Linked DNA regions of Homo sapiens. The protein of the gene in region 1 interacts with the protein of each later gene in a biochemical or structural test. Each region holds a gene or a part of one and is shown in the gene's direction. Other genes may lie near its edges. The genes, in order: FAT3, PDZD2, GRID2IP, SNTG1, PDZRN4, PDLIM1 and RADIL.

Region 1 (3,500 bases):
AGGAAACCAGGGCTCTAAGAGACAAAGACAAAAAAAAAGCATAATAACTTTAGCACTTTGATGTGCTTCTTATTTAATAGGGTTGGAGTGGGGGAAGTTTTTTTTATTTTTTTTTTAACATTTTACAAGGAGAAAAGTTGTCTCTTAGAATTAAACCGAATGTTGATATTCAATCATGAATCTCAGTTGTTGCCTTTTTGGAACTTGAACAATGAGTGATGCTGGGGCCAGTTTCTGTGCACAGTGCACTGGGATGAGAAAGTTCCCAGAACTGTCCAGTTATAATGTCTTCATATCATCTGAATCACACAGAGAACTCCACATGAAAGGCAGCTGGCTCAGAGATCAGAAATCAGTCAGCTGCTGGGCTGGCTCCATCTCTTGTGGCTGCAGGATTTTCACAGCCAGGGTTTGTTGACCAGCGACTGGCTCTCAAGCCTTTTAGAAATCTTTCTTTCAAATTTTATTTATTCTGGTCTCTGGCGGAGTCATTTTGGGGATTTTTTTAATAGGACCCAGTCTGTCTGTTAACTAGCAATTACAGTTGTGCTGAGCTACTCAAAAATGAAATGAGTAGCAATAAACAGTGGATACCCACTGACCTGTATGCTATACGGTTATTTTGCTAGCCCACAGCCTTTGTAAAGCTATGGCTCTTCAGGCTGCTCACAGAAGAACATTTTGATGTGTCAGGTTATGTTATCATCCCTGCTTTCTTCTTCATACGATCCTGAATGACCTTAGCTAATCTGGCTGATGAATTATGTCAAATAGAAAGAAGTAGGCAATTACCAGGCAGGAGAGGGTATTTAGTCATTACCAGCAGGTCTGAGGAGTGCTCCTGGTGGCTGTTGCGTTGTTATGCTATATTAATAGCTCACAAAGCATAAAGGACTATTGTGGCTTTATTTTACCAGTTGTGGCATTGGGGTATGGCATTCCTTCATAGCCCACATCTGTCCAGTTGCCTGGTGGGTTGGCTTTTTCCTCTAGGGCAAGAAGGAGAAAGATAGTAATGAGGATATTTGATTTTTTTTTCCATTGTGGGGTCATCCCCAGGTTTTTCTTTTTTTTCCTTCTGCAGGAGCCTTGAGTAGGGAATCATCTGATGGGAGCAGGTGGGCCTGTCCATTTGAATTGATTTCCTTTGATTGCTGAAGAAGGACTATTGATGAACCACTTCTTTGCTGATTGTGGCAAACATTAGAATTGGAATGGAAATTTAAAAGAAAGGGATCTGACAGACTTAGAGTGAAGGATTTGTGTTCTGCCCAATTCCTTCCTAGAGTTAGCAGAGCCTCTGATTTCTACAGATATGCATGGTCTTAAAAATATTAAAGGAAGCACAACTCCTGTGTATGCAGTTTTACTTATTGGTGAAATTTTCTGCAATGCTTTTTTGATCTCTAACTGTTGAATATGTCATTTTCATCATCTTTCTACCCAAATTGTGAGGAGTGGGTCTTTGTTTTTTAATATATCCTGACCTCTTGAGGATCACCACAGTGTGACAACTTTCTCTGGGAAGACTCAGAGAGTAAATATCTTTTCTGTGTTTTGGTCGATTTAATTCTACAGGCTTCTCAAACTTACTGAGTTTTCTGTCAATTGCAGGGTATCTACTCCTTTAATAAGCTTTATTCCTTTCCTTGTTTTCTTTTTTTGTTTTTTCGTGTTTTTTTTTTTTTTGTTTTTTGTTTTTTTTTACATTGCCTCCCTTTCTCCAAATTTCTAAGAATAATTTTCAGGAAAGACTGCCTTTCCTTGAAAAAGAAATTCAGCTTAATGACACAGACTGCATTTATTGAGAACATATTTGACACTTGTCTAGTGGCTTCAAGCCAGTTTCTGGTCTACCAAAATAGGCTATCAGTTACATGTAATAGTGACAAATGACCCATTCTAGCAGTTCTGAATTGGAATGGCATTTTCAGGTTAGTCTTAATTTTAGCATATTCCAGGACTTAGATTTTTTTTCTTTTTTTTTTTTTTTTTCTGCTAAGTGGAAGGGATGAAAATTTGAGAATGGATTAACTGGCATGATGATAGAAAATAGAAAACAGATTTCAGAACTTAATCAATTAAACTCTTCACATAAACAAAATATTACTTCCTTCACCAGATAGATATATATGAATGTGGAGAGCCTAGAGGAGGTGTGAGGAGGGCCACAGCATTGTCCTTCCTTGAACAATGCATTATTGAAGGTGTTGCCTACCGTGGGCGGAAAAGTCATACAGAGGACCCTGAGAGGAGTCCTTGAGCAGTTGTTAGTATTTCAACGTTCTGCTCTTCCAGGGTTCCAAAACTGTGAATTATAGACTCTTTAATAAAGGAAAGTTGTTTCTTTAACTTTTGCCTTTGTACATCTGAAATATATCCCTTTTTAAAATTCTGTAAAGTCACATGGAATTTAAAATAATTTTTTGTCTTTAAAAAATGTCTTGCTTTCTCCTCTATTTTCCCTATTTTATTTTTGTTATTTATTTATTTAGAAACAGAGTCTCGCTCCATTGCCCAGGCTGGAGTGCAGTGGCGTGTTCTTGGCTCACTGCAACCTCCGCCTCCTGGGTTCAAGTGATTCTCATGCCTCAGTCTCCCGAGTAACTGGGATTACAGGCGCACACCACCATGCCCTCTTAATTTTTATATTTTTAGTAGACAGGGTGTTTCACCATGTTGGCCAGGCTGGTCTCGAACTCCTGGCCTCAAGTGATCCACCCACCTCGGCCTCCCAAAGTGCTCGGATTAGAGGCATGAGCCACCGTCCTCAGCCCTGTTATTTATTTTTTAAAAAAATTATTTTAAAGTTCTTTTCAGCGATATTTACTGAATCTACCTCTTTCACAAGACAGTGGGCAAGATTCAAAGAATAGTAAAATATATCCATTGCTTCTGCTTCGTGCTGTTTATTGAGAAAATGAGAGATGCCTGTGTGTGTACACTAGAAGTCACATCTAAAAATGTTTATTAATTGACAAAAGAATGTCTATGAACAGGAGCCTCAAGGAGGAGGGAGAGATTAATGTGAGGTGGAGTAAACTTTTAAGAGGAGTGTAAGTTATTAAAGTGAATATAATTCCATTTAATAATTCTTACTACAGCCCTAATGTATGCAAGGCACTATGAAATAAATTAATTCCTTCATTTGTCAGGGGGCAGTGCAGAGCTCCTTTTTGGAAGAACGTATTCATGGGGCAGCCCAAATGGGCTGTCGGAATGTTAGTTAATATTTTGAGAAGACTTCAGAATTTATTCATGTCCTTTCTCCACTATCCCCTTGTGGTCTCCCACCCCCCAATTTCAAAGGTAACTTTTAGGATTTTTGAATGTGTCTGGGAGCCTGCATGCAGGTGCACATGGTGTATTCTTAGTCCTCTGTTTTCCTATGTTTGAGACTCAGTTATGAATCTCAAGGTTAACTTTGTCACAGAACACCTCAGAGTGTTCTGTCCTTTAGGTATTCATCATTTAGATCTGTTGCTTGGTTTTTTACCTTA
Region 2 (3,500 bases), on another chromosome or scaffold:
TTTGAGTCTTGTGCGTATATGGGTGTGAATAAATATATAGTCCTGTGCTTTTTTTGTCTTTTTGCCAAAAAAAAAAAAAAAATCCACTGTGGTAGTCACCAGTACCTAACAACCTTTTTAAACCTCATACATCCACACGAAATAATATTTGAGCAGCCTGCTGGCATCAGTAAGACTGCTCCTCAGCCCATGGGCCTGACCTAGCAGGCTGTCCCTCGCACTGACCACTCTGCTGTCAGCACACCCATAGCCTACTCTAGGAAACCGCACTGCTATCCTGCAGGCTCTTCTACACCCGACATCACCTGGAGAGGCTGCTGGGCCTTCCACCCCACGGATGTGCTGTAACGAGTCAACCTTCCTCCCATGATTGGGCATTTCGAACGTTTCCAGAGAAAAGGTTGTCTTGAAAGGTGACAACCAAAGGCTGCCTCAGTGTAACCTCGTCTCCCTCAGATGAAGACCTTTTAAGTTACAGACTTTGCAATAAAGTCAAATTGCTAACATGAATTGCCTGTTTAGGTTTATTCAGTGAGCGAATATGAAATTTGTTTATTTTTGAGACGGATTCTTGCTCTGTCGCTCAGGCTGGATGGAGTACAGTGGCTCGATCTCGGCTCACTGCAACCTCCGCCTCCCAGGTTCAGGCAGTTCTCCTGCCTCAGCCTCCCAAGCAGCTGGGATTACAGACGTGCACCACCACACCTGGCTAATTTTTGTATTTTTAGTAGAGATGGGATTTCCCCATGTTGGCCAGGCTGGTTTCGAACTCCTGACCTCAAGTGATCTGCCTGGCCTCAGCATCCCAAAGTGCTGGGATTACAGGCATGAGCCACCGCCCACGGCCTGAATATGAAATTTAAAAACAGAGTTTAAATCCCCTCCTTTTGTGTCATTGCTACTCCCCACCACCACCCGCACTACCGCCCATATTTGCTGTCACCAGAAGCAGGAACATTATGCTTAAGGGGAAGTTCAAAAAAGGTTGAGCAGAGAAGGAGAAGAGCACGTGGCTTTGAGTCTTGGCAGGCCCCTGGCCTTCCACAGTGGGCCTGGAAAGCTAGTAGCTAGTACGGTCTCCATGGGGATCTCGACGATCCAACCTTTTGATTGCCAAGGGCTCTCCACACAGAGGCCACATAGTCAGGGTTTAGGCAGTAGCATGGGCTGTGGAGCCAGCTTCCTGGGGCGACCGCTGGCTCTGCCACCTGTGAACTCTGACCTCAGACACATTGCTTAACCACGCTGTTTCTCCGTCCTCATCCTTCCAATGCAGATGGTCACAGGACATACCTCAGTGTTAGGAGGAAAATTAAATGTGTACAAAACTCTTAGCACAGTGTTAACTCCTTAATTATTGGAAAACCTCTTAGCACAGGGCTGAGTCCTAATAATTAGTTCTTAATTATTCACATAGCAAGGTCAGCAGGTTAAAAAAATGCAATTAAGATGATTTTATGTGAGAGCTGTGGAACGAACATAATATTTGGGGAAGAGTTGGTTTGACTTAATTCTCAAACCAAGAGCTTTCATGGAACTTCATTTTTCACTCCAACCTCAGACCCATAGTTCCTAAGAAAATAGCTTTGTTCTTTCTGATGCCAGATTTTTTTTCCCTGTTGCAAGATGCTGTGTGTCTGAGGTGGAAGATTAGCCCAAGACTATGCAGGGCCTTATGAACAGGCACTTTCAGGAGTGAGTGGCTGTTGGAACCCACCTCCTAGATGACTTCCCACTGTCCACTGGCACACATCCCCTTGCCCTGCCACCTCCAAGATTTCAGGCTCTTTCTTGCTTCTCTGCTTTCATTCTGTTGCCTTTTTTTTTTTTTTTTTTTTTTTTTTGAGACAGAGTCTTGCTCTGTTGCCCAGGCTTGAAGGCAGTGGTGCAATCTCAGCTCACTGACCTCTACCTCCTGGGTTCAAGCGAATCTCGTGCCTCAGCCTCCCAAGTAGCTGGGATTACAGGTGCATGCCACCATGCCTGGTTAATTTTTGTATTTTTCGTAGAGATAGGGTTTCACCATGTTGGCCAAGCTGGTCTCAAACTCCTGACAAGTGATCCACCTGCCTTGGCCTCCCAAAGTGCTGGGATTACAGGCGTGATCCACCGTGCCCAGCTGCCTTTTTTTTTTTTTAATTGACACATAATTGTACATACTTATGGAGCACAAAGTGGTACTTCAGTACATATATACATTGTGCAATGATTAAATCAGGGTAATTAGCATATCCATCACATCAAATGTATCATGTCTTTGTGGTAGGAACATCCCAAATTCTCTCTTCTAGCTATTTCAATAAATGCAATACCTTATTATTATTTTTTTTTTTTGAGACGGAGTCTTGCTCTGTTACTCAGGCTGGAATACAATGGCATGATCTTGGCTCACTGCAACTCCACCTCCCAGGTTCAAGCGATTCTCCTGCCTCAGCCTCACAAGTAGCTGGGATTACAGGCGTGTGCCACCACACTCAGCTAATTTTTGTATTTTTAGTAGAGACGGGAATTTCACCATGTTGGCCAGGCTGGTCTCGAACTCTTGACCTCAGGTGATCCACCCGCCTTGGCCTCCCAAAGTGCTGGGATTACAGGCGTGAGCCACCATGCCCAGCCCTGTTTTTGTTGTGTTGTTGTTGTTTTGTTTTGTCTTTTGTTTTTTTTACACTCAAACTGCCTTGGCTATTCAGAGTCCTTTGTGGTTCCATGCACATTTTACAACTGTTTTTTTTTTTTCTATTTCTGTAAAAAATGTCATTGGAATTTTGGTAGGAATTGTACCGAATCTATAGATGACTTTGGGTAGTATGGACATTTTAACGGTACTCTTCCATTGTCTTCCTTACCTTCCTCCTCCTCACTCTCTGGCCAAACTCCCCTTGTCAGCCCCATTCATGTCCCCACCTCCTCTGTCAAGTCTTCCTGGGATAATCTGGCTTCTCACTCTCCCACTCCTCTGAATTCGTCAAGACAGCCAGAGCTCGGTGTAGACCTGTATCCCAGCTTTCGTATTCTGTATGTTTTCCCTAGTTAGCCTCAGCCCCTGCACTAAAAAGGAAGCCTCTTGAGCTCGGCACTTGGACTGTTTTACACTGAAGTACATCATTCACATCCCCCAGTGTGAGCCAAACCCACACACCACTGGCCAGATACTGGGACTGAGAGGTCCATGAGGGCCCTGCTGCATCCACGCAGGAGTAGGGAACCAAATAGAACAAGAGCCTGACGCTTGCGGCTTTGCCATCAGAGGGTGAATGGCATAAAGAGACCCAAGTGTGCAATGATTAAATCAGGGTAATCAGCATATCCATCACATCAAATGTATCATTTCTTTGTGGTAGGAACATCTGCCATCATAGAAATACCAAAAGAGAGAAAAATGGGCAGATGTAAATGTTTCTTCTGCCGGCTAATCTGAGTTCTCTTAGAGCGTCTAAAGCAGGGTGGTATTTGTTAGATGTGGGTACTCTATAATTTTAGAGAGAAAACCAGGAAGACAA
Region 3 (3,184 bases), on another chromosome or scaffold:
GAGACTCTGTCTCAAAATTAATTAATTAATTAATTAAAGGCAGCCTCTGCAAAGGAAATTGACCTGGCACATCAGACAGGCATAGGCCCAAATCCTGGCTCATTTCCTTACCTGCTGTGGGACTATGGGCAAGTCAGTTACCCTCTGTGAGCCCAGTTTTCTCATCAGGAAAAAGAGGGGTCATGAGAACCTCTACCACAGTGGTCATTAATTGATGTGACCCTGGTGGGTTCAACCGTGGCTCAGGCACCACAGTGCTTGCTGTGTGATCTTGGGCTAGTTGCTAAAGTCCTGTGTGCTTTAATTTGTTCACATGTAAAATAGAGATAATCTACCTCATAGAGGTGTTAAACGATGATTCAACAAGCTTGGAACAAAGCTCGGCACCATTTTAAGTGCTGAAAAAATGATAGCGATTCAGCCACTGAATCTTTTTGCAAGACTGACCATGTATCAGATGCTATTCTAAGCCCTGGAGGTGCAAGGAGGGAGCGAGCTTTCACTTAGGCAGTAGGAAATGAACTTATGAACAATTTCAGATCATGACAAATGCTCTAGAAAACAGAGTAAGGCCTAAGGCCAGGTGCAGTGGCTCACACCTGTAATCCCAGCACTTTGGGAGGCCAAAGTGGGAGGATCACTTGAGCCCAGGAGTTTGAGACCACCCTAGGCAACATACACCCCATCTCTATTTTAAAAATCAAAAAATTAGCTGGGTATGGTGGTGTAAACCTCTGGTCCCAGCTGCTCGGGAGGCTGAGGTGGGAGGATCACTTGAGCCTGGGAGGTAGAGGCTGGAATGATCTGTGAGCTGTGATCACACCACTGCACTCCAGGCTGAGCGACAGAATAAGACCCTGTCTCAAAAAAAAAAAAAAAAAAAAAAAAAGTAAGGCCTAGAGAGTGACAGAGGGGCCTACTGTAAATGAGTGGTTGGGGAAGAAGGTGGCAGTGGAAGCCTCTGATCAGAGACCCAGGGCCTGGCCCTGCAGAGAGAACAGGGGTGAATGGCCTGAGGCTGCACTGGCTGTGGCCAGTTCCAGGATGAGTTCAGTGGCCAGTGGGACTAGAGTCCCTGAACAGGGCCTGGTTCCCTGTTGGACACAGGGCCTGGCCCTTGGAAGGACTCAGGCCAACCGGGAATAGGGCTGCTAGGGACCTGTCTGTCGGGCCACCACCTGAGACCCTGGGGGCACAAGCGGGCTGGCTGTTTCCTTAACTGAGGCCTGTCAGTCCTTCCTGGAGACGGCCCAGCCAGCACTTCGGGCGCTCGACGGGCTGCAGCGCGAGGCCATGGAGGAGCTGGGCAAGGCGCTGGCCTTCTTTGGGGAGGATTCCAAGGCCACCACCTCTGAGGCTTTCTTCGGCATCTTTGCAGAGTTCATGAGCAAATTCGAGGTGAGCCTCGCTGGAGCCCTGAGGGGCCCTTTTGGAGAGGTGGGGGCCAGAGGCCAAATGAAGGGATCCTCCATGAAGCCAGGGCTGGGAAAGGGGCTCCAGTGAGCGACATGTCCCCCTAACCCCCTGATGGGCTGTCTAGTGTGGGAAGAGACAGGGAAGGCGTCACAGGTTCCTGGGACCACTGACCACCCTACCTCTGTGTTCCCCCTCCCCAGCGAGCGCTGAGTGACCTGCAGGCCGGGGAGGGCCTGCGCAGCTCCGGGATGGTTTCACCCCTGGCCTGGTGACAGTGGCCACACCGCGTCCTCTGCGGCCTGAGCAGGGAGATGGAGGCCGAGAGGGCAGCCCAGACACTGCCGAGGTCCGGGGCCACTGTGCCCCGGGCTCTGAGCACACCGCCAGCCTCTCCTGCAGCTACCTCAGCCGCCGAGCTGTGGTCGGGCCCTCCTCTGCCAGCCCTTGTTCCTACCCCCAGGCCCAGAGCCAGATGCTGTAGGAGCAGGTGCTGAGTGTGCCTGCACATGGAGGACCGTGCTCTGTCGGCTTCTTGGGCCCACTTCCCACTTCGCTCCCAGGCTGTCAGGGGGGCCTGGAGGGTGGATTACAAAGTGGCCACATTCCTGGGACATGTGGACCTTTTTTCTGATCCTGCTCCTAGTGGGTCCCTGTGAGGGGGCCGACACCCTTGAGCACGACCCTGCAGGCAGGCGCGAGACGCGAGAGGGCAGAAAGCCGGATGTAGAGGGGCCCTGGGGATGTGCACGCCCAGCCTGGGCCTTGGAAGCTGGCTTCAGGGACACAGGAAGAGAGAAGCCTGGGAGAGACGCAGGGAAGGAAGGACTGGAGAAGGAAGACCCCCTATGTCAGACTGCGGAATTGAGGTTTCATGCAGTGGACAAACCCAAACCTGTGTAGAGGTGGCCCAATTGGAAGTGGGGAGCCTGGGAGTGGAATAGGTGTGGTCAAGGTAGAGCAGACAGAATGGGGAGGTGTTGAGGCAGGAGGTGAGCAGGATCTGGTGGCCAACTGCCAGACTTCTCACCTGGACGGATGGTGATGTTCCCTGGAGCAAGTCATGAGACCGGGGCAGGTGTGGGGGCAGATGACACAATCTGGGATGTGTTTGGGACCCAAATGGTCATTTTACATGTGCCTAGGCATATAGCAGGAGTTACCTGGATACCAGGAGCAGGAGCAGGTGGCGTGGTGGGCAGGGAGGGAGGGTGTGTGAACTGTTTCACCTTTTTTAAAATTCTCTGATTGACAGATCCTTGGATCAGACAGCTTCCCTCGTTGCACTTTTTTTTTTTTTTTTTTTTGGAAAAGTCTGAAATGGGCTTTAATCCTGTCTCATGGATTCTTTTTCTCCCACTGCAATCAAATGGCTTACATTGCACCTGGGCAGTACTGGGAACCTGTTCAGTTCTTCCCAGTCTCCCCTAGGCCCCTCTTGGAAGCCACCTTTGTTTTTTTGTTCCTTGCACACAAGCACCATACAAAAACATCAAAACCAAAATATATACTGCAAGGGGGATGTGGCTAGTGGGGTACATTTCACCCTAGCAGCTCAAGCAGAATTGTTTCCAAAAGTTCCCAGTGCCTGTGTCTCTGGGAAACATGTCAGGAGGTCAGTTAAAACCTCTGCAGGCAGGGCGTGGGGGCTCACGCCTGTAATTCCAACACTTCGGGAGGCTGAGGCAGGTGGATCACCTGAGGCCAGAAGTTCAAGACCAGCCTGGCCAACATAGTGAAGCCATATCTCTACTAAAAATACACAAAATTA
Region 4 (3,500 bases), on another chromosome or scaffold:
CCCAGGCCTTAGGAGTCACTGCACAGCCCAACACTATGCCTCCCAAACAAATCCCCTCCTGTACTGGTGGGGGAAGGGGGTGAAGTGAAAGATGGGGTGAGCCTGGTTCCAGCATGCCAATGGCTGGAGCCCATGCCATACTTGATTCTCGGTTCTGGCTGTGGGAACCTCTTCCCTGCTTGAGCACCAGATCCCCAGGATACTGTTAGAGCCTCTTTAATGACAAAGGCTGCCACTGCTGCTAGTTTTCAGGACTGTGCACAGCTTGCAAAGAGCTAGGATCAAGAATGGTGTTCTGTTGTAGGTTCCAAGGTCTCGGGAAGTGCATGGGACACTTCCCAGAGCAGGTACTTCTTACAGTCTCCCAGCCACATCCCAAGGTAGATCTAGGGCTTAGAAAAGTCATGGTGCTCTACCGTGGCCTGAATTATATGATTCTATAGTGGGAAATTGGACCACAGAAAGATACTCACTCACCCTCTCCCATATTGGGAATTTACTCTCTTCTCATTTTCAGCCAGTCCCACAGCCACACAGGCTGACTGTTCTTCTTTTTCTGGTCAGATTTTGGAGTTTCTTCGTGTGTTACTGTTGAACTCCTGTGTTCTCTCTTGGATAATATGTTTGTAAACAAAAAAGTTACTGAGGTGGATCTTAATCAATTAGAGATTTATTTTGCCAAGGTTGAGAACATGCCTGGGAAAAAGAAACACAAATCACAAGGAGATCTGTACCCTGTGCTTTTTTTTAAAAAGGGTTCTGGGAACTTCAATATTTAACAGGGAAAAAGCAAGCAGGAAGAGGAAGAAAGAAAAAAAGTCTGGGTAGGCAATGAGATAAGTGGTCACATTCTTGTGAGGATCTTACTAATGAGCAGAAAAGCTACATTTTACATAAAGTAAACATGAAATTACAGCTTTTTGGGAATGAAAGGAAGGCAGTTTTTTCATGACTAACTACCTAAACTTAGCCCTTTGGTATAGTGAGTTTGGGGTCCCAATATTTGATTTTGCTTTCATATGTGCAAAGTGTGATTGTCTACACACCATTGTCATTCTTCTAAGTGGATGAAGTACCCTGGAAAAGCATCTAGTCAGCCATCTTGAAAAAAAAACCTGTTGTTTCTTTGTAATATTGCTTTATAAATCTGAGAGAACTTGGAACAAATCTAACAAAATAGAAGATACTTCTGGAGAAGTGAGAAAATTGAGAAAAATGCAACTGATGAGTTCTTGATATGTTTAGCTATTATTATTATCATTACTATTATTAAATGATACTTTCCAGTTGGCAAAAAAGTATTCTGGAGGCTATTCTTTCTACTGGGGCATAAGTCAAACTATGACAAAAGAGAAATGCATGCAGAGAGCAAGCCATAGAAGGCAAGTTAGGAAATGATACGAATATTTATCTGTATTTATTTTATTGAATCAATACTGACAACAAAAATTTCCAACATTAAGTACTTCCAAGTATTAGATACTAAGCAAAGAATTAAATATAGTATCTTATTTAATCATCAGATCAATTAATTATTTCCACTTTAGTGATGAGTGAAGGAAGCTATATATATGGTAATCAACTTGACAAGGATTACCTATTAATAAATAAAAGAGAGGAGATTCAAATCAAGACAGAATTCTGAAGCTAGAACTTTTGTTCTTATCACCTTATAACAGCTCCTGCATGTGTGTTAGAGAGAGAATGAGGGTGAGAAAGAGGAATATATACATTCTTATTTAAACCTATGTGGATAATCGTGTAAATACTCCTTATTATACTAATACTTCTAGTCAATGCCAGTCTCTAAGAGTATCTTATTTAGTTTTTCAGTTAGTTATATATATATTATTACTTGCATATAACTTGATAATGACTGCAACCGTAAAGGAACACAATCTTTTGAAATGTTATAGGCAGCAAAGGTAGAAACTCTAGTAAAAGAAATCTAGTGTCAATGATTTTAGATGATTATGTTGAAAGTAGATCTTTAAAATGATTGAGCTATAGTCACTTTTCACTAAATTTCTGATAAAGGAACCCCTGCTTTTTCCAAAGTTTCTCCTCCTCCCACCCATCCACTCTTAGCCATCTAAAGCTTAGAGTCTATGCTGCCCCCTTCTCACTTAACTCTCCAATATCTTTTCCTGGCAGGTGCATTCTATGAATTTCTTAGCAGGATCACCTGGTCTTTTTCAGGCTTGCACCAGGTTGCTCTTGCATTTGTCTTTAAGTCCTTGATGGTACTACAGTCTCTCCCTACAATACAACTTTCCCCCTCCTACTTTCCCTCAAGATGATTTATCGTTCCTTATTCTGCTTCCTTAGCATGTTACCTCTATAGCACTGTCATATGCTCGTTATTTTAACATATTTCTCTCCCTCACTAAAATGAGACCTGGGTGCTCAGATGCCATTTGCAGTGTGAGTCAGTTCATGAGAAGTATATTATAAATAACAACAGGAAATGGCAAGAAGTTTTCAGAGATGCTGAAACTATATTTGCAGAGTTGATTAGAGGATGCTTTGTCTGAGAGAGAGTCACGACTTGGGTAATATAACAGAAGATCTTAAATTGAGTTTTAAAAGAGCAAAGGAGTAAAGTTTTGCTAAGAGAATAGAAAATCTTACATGAAGTCCATTTTAAGATCCTATTGCTACATGTGATTTATGAAAAGGAAAAAATAACAAAATTTTCTGACTAATAATGACATTAGATAATATTTTTTATTATAAGGAAAATGAAGGGCAATTTAATAAACCATAAAATTGGCAAGGTTTCTGGAAACTGCAACGTTTAGTTATAGATTTTTGCCAATTTATCAATTTAAAAAGCTAAGGTAGATGTTGAAATATCTGCAGTATAAAGAGAGGGCATACTAAAATTTTTGCTATAGTAGCTTGTCATTATACTGTGTTCAAGTCCAAAATTTATAACCAGATCAATCATCCCATGTCCTTCCCTAGCTTCAGCTCTCAATGTTTCTGCCTCCTTTTCTTTGAATTTCTGAAATGCCTGACTTGGCCCCAGCCAGTCCCATCCACTCTCTGGAAAGAACACCCTTTTTCTATACTTTATCTTTGATATTCTACTCGTTTTCAGCCACTGTTTAAAATTTACTTCCTAGAGAACATTTCTCTAGCTTTTCAATCTATTGTGATATAATACCTTTTTCTTCCTCTTCTTCTTCTTCTTCTTCTTCTTCTTCTTCGTGTTCCTCTTCCTCTTCTTCTTCCTCCTCTTTTTCTTCCTCTTCTTCTTCTTCCTTCTTCTTCTTCTTCTTTGCCTTCCTCTTCCTCTTCATCTTCCTCTTTTTCTTCTTCTTTTTCTTTTTCTTCTCCTTCTTCTCCTTCTTCTTCTTCTTCTTTCTCTTCCTCTTCCTCCTCCTCCTCCTCTTCTTCTTCTTCTTCTTCTCCTCCTCCTCCTCCTCCTCCTTCTCCCTCTTCTTCTTCCTCTTTTTGAGATGGAGTTTCCCTCTGGTTGCCCACGCTGGAATGCA
Region 5 (3,500 bases), on another chromosome or scaffold:
CATTTCAAAAAAGGATGATAAATCTCTGTTGAGGAACATTTCTGATGAGGAACTATGATTATATTTTAAATTTGTAATTAATATTTTATATGTAGAGTTTGGAATAAATTATACAATACTTTTAATATTTCTTGGTGTAATATGGCTACCTTGTTCCTGTCATTATCTTTTATATGAAAGAAAAAGAGAAATACCTTTTTTTCTCTTTGTTGTGAAAACCTGGTGAGAACTCTTTGTATGTTTTAACTGTATTGTTGTATTCGGGGGTGATAAAGTGAGCACCTATATGCTAGTAAAATTGGGTTATGTTAATGAAATTTTATGTCCCTGCCATCTGCCATCTCTGTCCTTTTGACATTTTATTAACTGGTTAAGATAATATTACTTTTTGTTGCCAAAAATGGTTAAGTTACTTTTATCAGTGAGTTTATTTCCAATGGATTAGTGAAGCTATAAATAGGAATTTGGAAGGTTTACTTGACTCCACTATTGTTTTTAAAAATTCTGTTCACTCTAGGCTATATAATCACTAGTGCTATCTCTCTGAATACTTATATAAACTATCAGAATGGAGGCAGATTTTCTATATTAAATTTTAAATAAAGTTTTAGCTTTTCATTCATCCTCTGTGCACTAAACAAAGTTGAATTTTTAATGAATCGACATAGAGTAAGAGTGAAGAATATAGAAGACCCAATAGTTTGCTGTTTTGGGAAAAAAGAACACAACATTTATAAATTAGCCGACTACAAAATTTAGAAAAAAAAGAAGAGTTATCTTTTGCCAAAAAAAAAACTTTGATTTATATCTAAAGAGGTCTCTTGTATCAAGATTTTTATTCTTCCAGTTTTGTTGCCGAGAAAGTGCAGACCTACTTTTGCTGTTGCTATCCAGTTCATCTTGACAATTTGTCTAGTGGAAACATTCACATGCTGTAGCTTCTAAAGTTAGAATGTGCACAGTATGATCTAAAGGGCAACATACTTTAAACAGAAGATTGTCCCTATTACTTTCTGCATTATCTCAAAAACATATTAAGTTGTCCAGTTACCAATGGAAAATAAATTCCTACATTTGATATTATTAGAAGAACTGATGGAACTGAATACATATATTGTTACACCCACACAAACACATAGACACAACAGAAATACGTATTGGCAATTTAAAAAATAACTTATTCTAGCTAGATGACAATATTATGTATGCTTCATTAATGTTACATTAGAAAAGAAAAAGAATTTTTTATATTGTCATACAACAATTTGGTTACAAACCTACTGTTTTTTTTAAAGAGGTAATTTTATAAAACTATGGTTGAAAATCAAGTGCATCTAGACACCTACATAGTACTGTTACTAATATATGTCAGATTAACCTTATTTAAACCCTGTAAGATAAAAAGTAAGGAGGTCAACCACAGAAATTCAAATGAAATTTAACTAGCTGCGGTATTATTATTCACTTTCATTTGCATATATTAGCAGTTAATGACTAGAGCTTGAAATTTGTCTCAATGATATAGATTTTTCAATGTGTCTTTTATACCAGGGTACATTGATTTTATGTATATATGCTATAGTTGTAGAATGGATCAATGTGACCACATTTGCAGTTAAGAAATGGGTTAGATGAGGTGCATATTTCTAGAATGTTGTGTGTTAAATAGCATGAAATATTTTAGAAAGAAGATTATTAGAAATAAATTGCTCTTGCTTAGTTGTTCAGTGATGCTATCGGCTTTTTGAGTGAATAGATATTTGTGTGACTTTAATATCTAGTTAAACAAGAAGTGTGTTTTTTCTTGTGCATATGGTGTGTGTTGTAAAAGATCCCTATGTAATCATTAAAGTTAGAAATATTTGATGCTTATCATTATTTTAGTTTCTCTGTCATTATGATATCAATCAACTTTAAGCAGTTTTTAGCTAATTGGAAATTGAGAAGAAATCTATCAATTTAAAATGTGCAGATGCATATTTTAAAACAGATTTTTAAAGTAAAGATAATAATTTATTTTCTGTTTTGTGATCAAAGATTTGTTCATTGAACAAATTTAATGGCTCAATTTTTGAATTTCAAATGGTCATGCTGATTTAAACCTGGTGCAACAAGTAAGTTTGTTAACAGTGTAAAGGGTACAAACTAGTTCATATATTATAAAATTATCCGTATGACTTATGCACAATCTGACACATTACTAAATGCTTTGAATTTACTGATATATAACTGAAATAAAAAATAAAAACAATAAGAGATTCTATGGTTTATATATAGTCAAGATATGCTCAAAAATATTTTCTGTAGCTAATTGCTTGATGCACACATACAAGTTTATGAATTGTTTTTAAAAAATAATAAAATTTTCCAAAGTTATTCACTTGAAGAGGAAGTAGACATGTTAAAGGTTTTGTTCTGTTGGTGGTTAAAAAGATTTTATAAACTCTAATAAATAATATATTAGTTATAATAGTTTTGCCACAGTTCAACAAAGGCTAGTAACACGTATTATTTTTTAATATTTGCATTCTATTGATAAAATTCAAGAATAATAAAAGAATAAAAAATTACTGTCATTAGGTAAACCTATGTCATATTTTTCACATAATATAAGGCAAGTTAATTTTTGGAGTCAGTCTCCACAAGCAACTATGTTAACCAGTTTCTAGCTATTTCCACATCCATATTTGTTAAACTATTTATGCTTGTAAATTTTAAAAAATCAGTTGTGATAGTTGAGTTACACTAGGTGTCAAAATATCACTGGAGACTGAAAAGGCAGAAGATATTGTTGAAGGCATTTTGAAACATCACAGAAATTCACATACACCAAGAATTCACCACAGTATACAGCTGAATAAAAGCATGCTGTTTTTCATTCTTTCAAGAATCAAAGGAATCACAGAAAATCCCTGATCCTATCGAAGGTTGGGCACAATTCTGGAAGAAGGCATGACCATTGCTGTAGTTATCATCATGTTAGGATGCCTAAGTGGTATGTGGGAGGGAGTTGAGAAACAAAGTTCACTGTTGCTTTTAGCATCGATTCCTCTATTCTTTCTTTCTTTCTTCTTCTTCTTCTTTTCCTTGTTTTTTCTGGGTTTTTTTTTTTGGAGACAGGATCTTGCTCTGTCACCTAGGCTGGAATGCAGTGGCATGATCACAGCTCACTGCAGCCTCTACCTCTGGGACTCAAGGTATCCTCCAGCCTAAGCCTCCCAAGTAGCTGGGACTACAGGTGCACCCCACCTCACCTGGCTAATTTTTTAAAAATTTTCTGTAGAGATGGGGTTTCACCATGCTGCCCAGGCTGGTCTTGAACTCCTGGGCTCAAGCGACCTGTCCACCTTGACCTCCTGAAATGCTGGGATTACAGGCGTGAGCCATAGTGCCCAGTCTCCTCTCTTATTTCTATGATACTGATAGCAGGCAATGCAACCATAACTCCAGAGTGGGAAAGGGTGGATAATCATTCATGGCTCTTTGTTTACACTTTCTTC
Region 6 (3,500 bases), on another chromosome or scaffold:
CAGGCACCTGTAGTTCCAGCTACTCAAGAGGCTGAGGCAGGAGAATTGCTCTAACTTGGGAGGCGGAGGTTGCAGTGAGTTGAAATCACGCCACTGCACTCCAGCCTGGGCAACAAGAGCGAAACTCCATCTAGAAAAAAAAAATGCATACAGATAGATTAAATATGGTTGATGCAGCAAATAGTTTGCACCCATTTCTTTAAAAAAATAATAAAAAATACTTATGCTTCTGAAGCTGAGCATACCCATACCATATAACCCAACAGTTCTCCTAGTTAAATAGTCAATAGAAACTGGGTCCACATGAGTGCTAAAGGACAAGTTTGAGAATTTTCCAAGCAACACTATTCATAATAGCCCCAAATTTGAAACGATTCACATGTCTAACAGCAATAGAATAGATAAGTAGTGGGTGTAATTATATGGTATAAAACATCACAGCAACAAGAGTGAAGAAATTACAACTATGCACAGTGACATGAAGGAGACACACACACACACACACACACACACACACACACAGAGAAAAAGGCCATACCTAAGAGTGAAGAGTAAATACTGTGTGATTCCAGTTACATAAAATTAGACAGAATTAATCTACAGTGTTAGCAGTCAGGATCATGGCAGACCTTTGCCGGAAGGTCAGTGACGGAAGGCGGGCACAGGGAGGTTTAGCAGTTCAGGTAATGTCCTCTTCTTTATCCCATGCTGTTTCCTTGGGTGTGCTCTGTATGTGAGAATTCAATCAGCTGTATCGTTACCATTTGTGCTGTATACATGTCATCCTTCAGTAAAGGTTACATAGAAGCCCGCGTAATTGTTTAAAAGATCGGACAATATAAACCTACAGAAAGCATAAGGTAAAAGGCTTCCCCAGTCTTACTTTACAGAGGTAAACACAGTGAACAGCTGGCTGCAAACCTTTCCAGACTTTTTCCGCACACGTAGCATTTCTAAAACCAAATTACTATATCTCAGTGAACTATTGGGACTTCATTGCTTTGTGCTTTCTGCCTTATTTTTACTGTAACAAATCAAGAATTAAAGACATCTTAATGTCAAGGGAAAAATACATTTTTGATATCTGCTAGATCTAGTTCAAACCTTATCTTGTCCATTTACTAGCTTGTATGTTCTTGGACAGGTTAACCCCTGAAAATTCAGTGTCCTCATTTGCAATGTGGGAATAATAGCGCTTGTCTTCAAAGGTTGTGGTGAGGATTAAGATGATATATAGAGAGAGCCTAGTGGTACTATTAAACTATTAAATATTAAAAATATTAATGGTAGCTACTATATATTGAGTGTTTATTACGTGCCAGGCATTGTTCTGAACTCTTTACAAATGCAGTCTCATTTAAGCCTTCCAGCAACCTGATGAGGTTGATGCATTATAAATTTCATTTGATAAATGAAGATACTGAGTCAGAGAGAGTAATTCCCTCAAGGTTTAGTGAGTGTTTAGGCTTTGGGTTATGGGTGGTAGCTGTTGGAGCTATTTAAAAGCACGTAGGGTTCATAGGAGCTTGTTTGGAAACTTTTGAGGAACTCGACGACTTCTTGACGGAGTCTCGCTCTGTCGCCTGGGCTGGAGTGCAGTGGCATGATCTCGGCTCATTGCAACCTCCATCTCCTGGGTTCAAGTGATCCTCCCACCTCAGCCTCCCAAGTAGCTGAGATTACAAGCGTGCGCCATCACACCTGGCTAATTTTTTGTATTTTTAGTAGAGATGGGGTTTCACCATGTTGGTGAACAGGCTGGCCTTGAACTCCTGACTTCAAGTGATCCGCCCATCTCGGCCTCCCAAAGTGCTGGGATTACCGGCATGAGCCACCACGCCTGGCCTCGATGACTTCTTAAGAATTTAGTCAGAGTATTCTATTTGGCTACCTGTTTTATTATATTCCTGTCTGAGAAATGGTGGTCGGTCTTTCAGACTGAGAGAGCAGCACGTCTCTTTGAACTGTCACCCCTTAGCACTAATAACTTCTTTTTGCACCATGCATAGTGTGAAGCTGGATTAAGGTGCAACTTATCTACAAGCATCTACCCTATTTTATTGCCTCATTTCCCTGAGAAAATGGTTATAGACTAACCAAGAACATTTTAAAACAGTGTTATGTTTTCAGGTCACCCTGTGTAAATGCATACAGCTTCTGCAGCCATAATATGGCTGTGAAGTCTGTGCCACAGCCTCGGCTCACAAACATACTGAGTCAGAAGATTCTGACTAAAGAGAGTTCAAATTCCACATGTAAATGGCATCCTACAGAGCTGGGTCCTGCTTTATCCCCAGTTTAGAATCTGTTAAATTTGTACCCAAATACCTTGACACAACTGTTAAATCAGCGGAGATTATGCTTAAAGGCATGTAGCATTGCGATTGAACTTGAATCTCACATTTCTTTATCCCAGTTGTATATAATTATTACTATCGTTATTTAGGCTGTCTCTTTCACTTACTTGCAGGCTTGTCTTAGGCTTGTCTTTCACTTAGTTACACATTTACAATATTTAAAACACAAGAACACATATAAGATTTAACAAAAAATTGGAACATGGAAGAGGAAAGAGAGAGAAGTGCCAGGAACTTTAAATCAGTTGGTTCTGTAATTGCACACTACATTTAGCTGTGAGTTTTCTGGCCAAGGGAAAATAGGACCCACGTCGAGTTATTTAGATATCTTGTTTGGAGTTATTATACTTCTACTGGTTGGACGCAGTGGCTCATGCCTGTGAAACTAGCACTTTGGAAGGCCGAGGTGTGAGGATTGCTTGAGGCCAGGAGTTCAAGACCACCTTGGCCAACACAGTGAGACCCCATCTCTATTTAAAAAAAACAACAAAATTACTTATGCAATGCTTCATTTGCATAGCATTTTCAGGGGTGTTAACCAACATTACAGGGGCTGTATTTTTTTGTTTGTGTTTTGTTTGAGACAGCATCCTGCTCTATTGCCCAAGCTGGAGTGTAGTGGTGCTATCATAGCTAACTGCAGCCTCCACTTCCTCCCAGTTTAAGCGATCCTTCCACCTCAGTCTCCTTGAGTAGCTGGGACTACATGCCTGGCTAATTTTTAATTTCTTGTTCAGACAGGGTCCCACTGTGTTGCCCGGACTAGTTTCAAGATCCTGGGCTTAAGCAGTCTTCCTGCTGTGGCCTCCCAAAGTACTGGGATTATAGGCATGAGCCATCCCTGCCTGGCCTATTTTTTTTTTTTTAAGTCTGTTTTGGTAAGAGATAGAGGAATACTATTCTAATGGATATTCCTTTCAAGGGCTTTGTATGTATTTTATAGGAGTATAAGTTCTGCCCTTGAAGGTGTTTCTGGAGGAGCTGAGATTTTAGGGTCTAATTACTTTTTGTCTACCTGATGACTTTAACTTCATTCAGGGAGAGAGTTTAAGGGGAAAAGATAGTCATAGTCATCATCTCTCTTGGTGTTTCCAAACCTGATGAGCATTAACATTTTCTGGGAAGCTTTAAAAAGGTATGGGT
Region 7 (3,500 bases), on another chromosome or scaffold:
GGAACGAGGCCCCTCCGGGCTGGGGATGGGCCTGATCGACGGGATGGTGAGTGGCCCAGGACCCTCGCCGCACCCCCATACTGGCTGCCTGGCCCCGCCTGTTCATGCAAGCCTGGCCGCAGCTTGCGTGGCCACGTGGCTACAGGAAGGCCTTCGGGGAGGAGAGTGGGGTTGGCCTCTGCAGCTGGGAGGGGAACCCAGCCTGTCCAACGGCCACGCCCCCTGGGCCTGCTGTCTCTTGCCTCTGTCCTCAAGCCTTTGGGGTCTGTCCTGGGCCTGTGGGGACGGTGGTGTCCACTGCTTTTCTGGAGGGACGCGTGAAACCATGAGTGGGCCTGGCTGGATGCCAGGCGGGGGCCTGTAGGTGCCAAGGGAGGGGCTGCAGTGGTCCTCGCTGGGGACAGCCAGTCGGGCCTGCGGAGCTCTGAGGCCTCTGCTTGTCCCCAGCACACGCACCTGGGCGCCCCCGGGCTCTACATCCAGACCCTGCTCCCGGGCAGCCCCGCAGCGGCCGACGGGCGCCTGTCGCTGGGGGACCGTATCCTGGAGGTGAATGGCAGCAGCCTCCTGGGCCTTGGCTACCTGAGGTACCCCCACCGCATGCACGCCCGGCCCCTTCTCCCAGATGCCCTGCTCAGGGGAGTGGACCTGGGGTAAAGGAGAGGCCCGGCTGCACCCTGTGGGTCTCCCCTGGTGCCCTCCTGCCCACCCCCACCTCTGGCATGGATTTCAGAGCTGTGGACCTGATCCGTCATGGCGGGAAGAAGATGCGGTTCCTGGTCGCGAAGTCCGACGTGGAAACAGCCAAGAAGATCCATTTCCGCACGCCCCCTCTCTAGGGGGGCTGCGAGGACACCCCCACAGGCCCGGCACCCGGTCCCACCTGGTGACACTGGGCTTCCTCCCGCCTTCGTCCCTGTTTTGTAACTGACCAAGTTGGGTCCCGGGTGGGGAGCCTCACCCTGGGGACATGCCTGTTGATAACATGCATCTCAGTGTAGGTTCTATTTATATGGCAGATGACGTGAAATTGTGATGTTTGTTACAGAGCTTTTATGTTTAAAGACTTCAATGGAGAAGTACGGTTCAATAAACTATTTTTCCCGTTCTTAGAGGGTGCCCTGCTGGGGTCTCAACTCGGGCAGCAGGCGTGGGCTGCTCGGAGGGGCCGCAGGGGCTCCCCATGGCCTCTGCCTGCCACCGGCACGGGAGAATGCAGTGACAGCTGTCATCAGGGGATCATCTGAACTGACTCTCCCTGCCCCCGTCCCACCCAGACACAGGGCACTGCAGGAAGCAGCTCCAACAGCCCCTCCCAGCTGAAGCAGGGCCAGACCTGGCAGAGGATGCTGGACTTCTGATCCCGCTGCTCAGCACAGGCCCCAGAGAAAGGTCTAGACACCCAGGCGTTGGAAAGTGGACCGGCCTGATGGTCTCTGAGGCGCCGAGCCCACCCTGGGCCCTGCTTCCTCTCCCAGGACTCCTGCTCCCTCCTGAGTTCCTCTCCCCTACTAAAGCCACCAGCGTGGCCCTGATACCAGGCTGGCGGCCCCAGGCCCTTAATCCTCACCAGCGTCCCCCTGGCCACCGGCCCTAACCCGGGCAGGAGGCCAGCGTCCCTCTCCACCAGCTGGCTGACCATGCGCAGGACCAGGGCAGGGCACTTGCTGCCTCGGGGTGACAGCGTGGGTCGCTGGGCATCCTCAGCAGCTCCACCAACTGGGTGTGGGTGGCTTCCGCGCCCTCCTGGCTGTGGTGGAACTGGTGGCCCAGGGTCATCTTTGATAGCAACAGAGAAACCCTGGGGAAGAGGGTCCCGGCATCAGTTGCAGATGCACCTCTCACTGGGACAGAGGTCTGTGCGGGGTCCCCAGATCGGTGTCCTGGGTCTGTCCCAGGCCCTGGGCCTCGTGCAGCTCCACGCTGCCCCCTGGTGTGCGCTACGGCGAGGTGCAGCGCGTCCGCCCCGCGCCCTCTGCCGACCCGCAGTTCTGTGTGCGGCTCCGCATTGCGCCTGGCTCGAAACGGCGACCACTGCCAGGTTCCCAAAATACTGGATAAAATATATATATATATATAGTGTTTGTATATATATTTAAGATATGTAAAATATATGAATATATATAAATATATAATTATATATGAATATATTACATATTCATGTATACGTAATATATTCGTATATTTTATAAACATTTTTTATATTTTATTATATAAAATATAAATATTTAATTTTTTTTTATGAGACGGAGTCTCGCTCTGTGACCCAGGCTGGAGTGCAGTGGTGCAATCTCAGCTCACTGCAACCTCCACCTCCCAGGTTCAAGCAATTCTCCTCAGTCTCCTGAGTAGCTGGGATTACAGGCGCCTGCCACCACGCTTGGCTAATTTAGTACTTTTAGTAGAGACAGGGTTTCACCACGTTGGCCAGGCTGATTTCAAACTGACATCAAGTGATCTGCCCGCCTTGCCCTCCCAAAGTGCTGGGATTACAGGCGTGGGATTACCATGCCTGGCCTTGTTCTGTTTCTTTTCCTAGGAGTCCCACAACGTGTGTGTTAGCACTGCCGAGAATGTCTCACAGCTCTGGACGGTCTGCATTTCTGGACCTGGTGCAGATCCCAGGATCCTGGACTCTGATTTGATGCCTTAACGGTGGAAGGGGGTTGAGTATATTTTTTATGTGGGAGGGGTGTGGACTGTGGCCAGAGGAAAGACAGTGGCAAGGCATTTCCAAAGGTGGCCACCAACAGTTCCTCCCACAAAGAGAAGGGGGCTTATCTCTTCTTCCCTGCAATATTCTCCGGCCTTCTGACTTGCTCCGAACAACAGGATGCAGCATAAGTGATATTCTGGGACCTTCCAAGCCAGACTGAAGGGCCTTTGGTTTCTATTTTCATGCTCCTGGAACTCAGCATCCATGGAAAGAAGCTCTTGGCATCACCCCAAGGAAGGGAGGCCCCGTGGAGTCGGGGAGGCCCAGCTAGCCTCTGGCCGCTGAAGCACCTAGCTGAGGTGCGGGACTGGTGAGGGCTGCCACTGGCTGTTCTGGTCTTGCTGAGCTTCCAGGCGAATGCAGTCCCACCAGTGATCCCGGGGACACCACGTGGAGCAGAACGACTTCCCAGCCAGGCCCCAGACAATCTACAACACTGTGAAAGGTAACACTTCTTATGGGTGTTTTGTTTTTTGGTTGTTTTGTTGATGGAGTTTCACTCTGGTCACTCAGGCTGAAGTGCAATGGTGCAATACGGCTCACTGCAACCTCCGCCTCCCAGGTTCAAGTGATTCTCCTGCCTCAGTCTCCTGACTGGGATTACAGGCACCTGTCAGCACACGCAGCTGATTTTTGTATTTTTAGTAGAGACCAGGTTTCACCATGTTGGCCAGGCTGGTCTCAAAACTCCTGACCTCAGGTGATCTGCCTGCCTCGGCCTCCCAGAGTGCTGGGATGACAGGCGTGAGCCACCGTGCCCGGCCTGTTTTTGTGTTTTAAAAGC

What was found.
Region 2: the proteins of FAT3 (region 1) and PDZD2 interact in a test that uses a peptide from one of them, tested with the Homo sapiens proteins (one large-scale study listed by IntAct).
Region 3: the proteins of FAT3 (region 1) and GRID2IP interact in a test that uses a peptide from one of them, tested with the Homo sapiens proteins (one large-scale study listed by IntAct).
Region 4: the proteins of FAT3 (region 1) and SNTG1 interact in a test that uses a peptide from one of them, tested with the Homo sapiens proteins (one large-scale study listed by IntAct).
Region 5: the proteins of FAT3 (region 1) and PDZRN4 interact in a test that uses a peptide from one of them, tested with the Homo sapiens proteins (one large-scale study listed by IntAct).
Region 6: the proteins of FAT3 (region 1) and PDLIM1 interact in a test that uses a peptide from one of them, tested with the Homo sapiens proteins (one large-scale study listed by IntAct).
Region 7: the proteins of FAT3 (region 1) and RADIL interact in a test that uses a peptide from one of them, tested with the Homo sapiens proteins (one large-scale study listed by IntAct).

Annotation. Positions count from the first base shown.
Region 1 is NC_000011.10:92,227,818-92,231,317, forward strand, and holds part of FAT3 (protocadherin Fat 3 isoform 1 precursor), read left to right. Parts: intron 1-3,500.
Region 2 is NC_000005.10:32,083,131-32,086,630, forward strand, and holds part of PDZD2 (PDZ domain-containing protein 2), read left to right. Parts: intron 1-3,500.
Region 3 is NC_000007.14:6,496,278-6,499,461, reverse strand, and holds the end of GRID2IP (delphilin), read left to right. Parts: intron 1-1,233; coding exon 1,234-1,398; intron 1,399-1,616; coding exon 1,617-1,688; 3' UTR 1,689-2,684; downstream 2,685-3,184.
Region 4 is NC_000008.11:50,698,407-50,701,906, forward strand, and holds part of SNTG1 (gamma-1-syntrophin), read left to right. Parts: intron 1-3,500. UniProt on the Homo sapiens protein: Adapter protein that binds to and probably organizes the subcellular localization of a variety of proteins. May link various receptors to the actin cytoskeleton and the dystrophin glycoprotein complex.
Region 5 is NC_000012.12:41,194,820-41,198,319, forward strand, and holds part of PDZRN4 (PDZ domain-containing RING finger protein 4), read left to right. Parts: intron 1-3,500.
Region 6 is NC_000010.11:95,281,004-95,284,503, reverse strand, and holds part of PDLIM1 (PDZ and LIM domain protein 1), read left to right. Parts: intron 1-3,500. UniProt on the Homo sapiens protein: Cytoskeletal protein that may act as an adapter that brings other proteins (like kinases) to the cytoskeleton. Involved in assembly, disassembly and directioning of stress fibers in fibroblasts.
Region 7 is NC_000007.14:4,796,717-4,800,216, reverse strand, and holds the end of RADIL (ras-associating and dilute domain-containing protein), read left to right. Parts: coding exon 1-46; intron 47-447; coding exon 448-587; intron 588-733; coding exon 734-839; 3' UTR 840-3,162; downstream 3,163-3,500. UniProt on the Homo sapiens protein: Downstream effector of Rap required for cell adhesion and migration of neural crest precursors during development.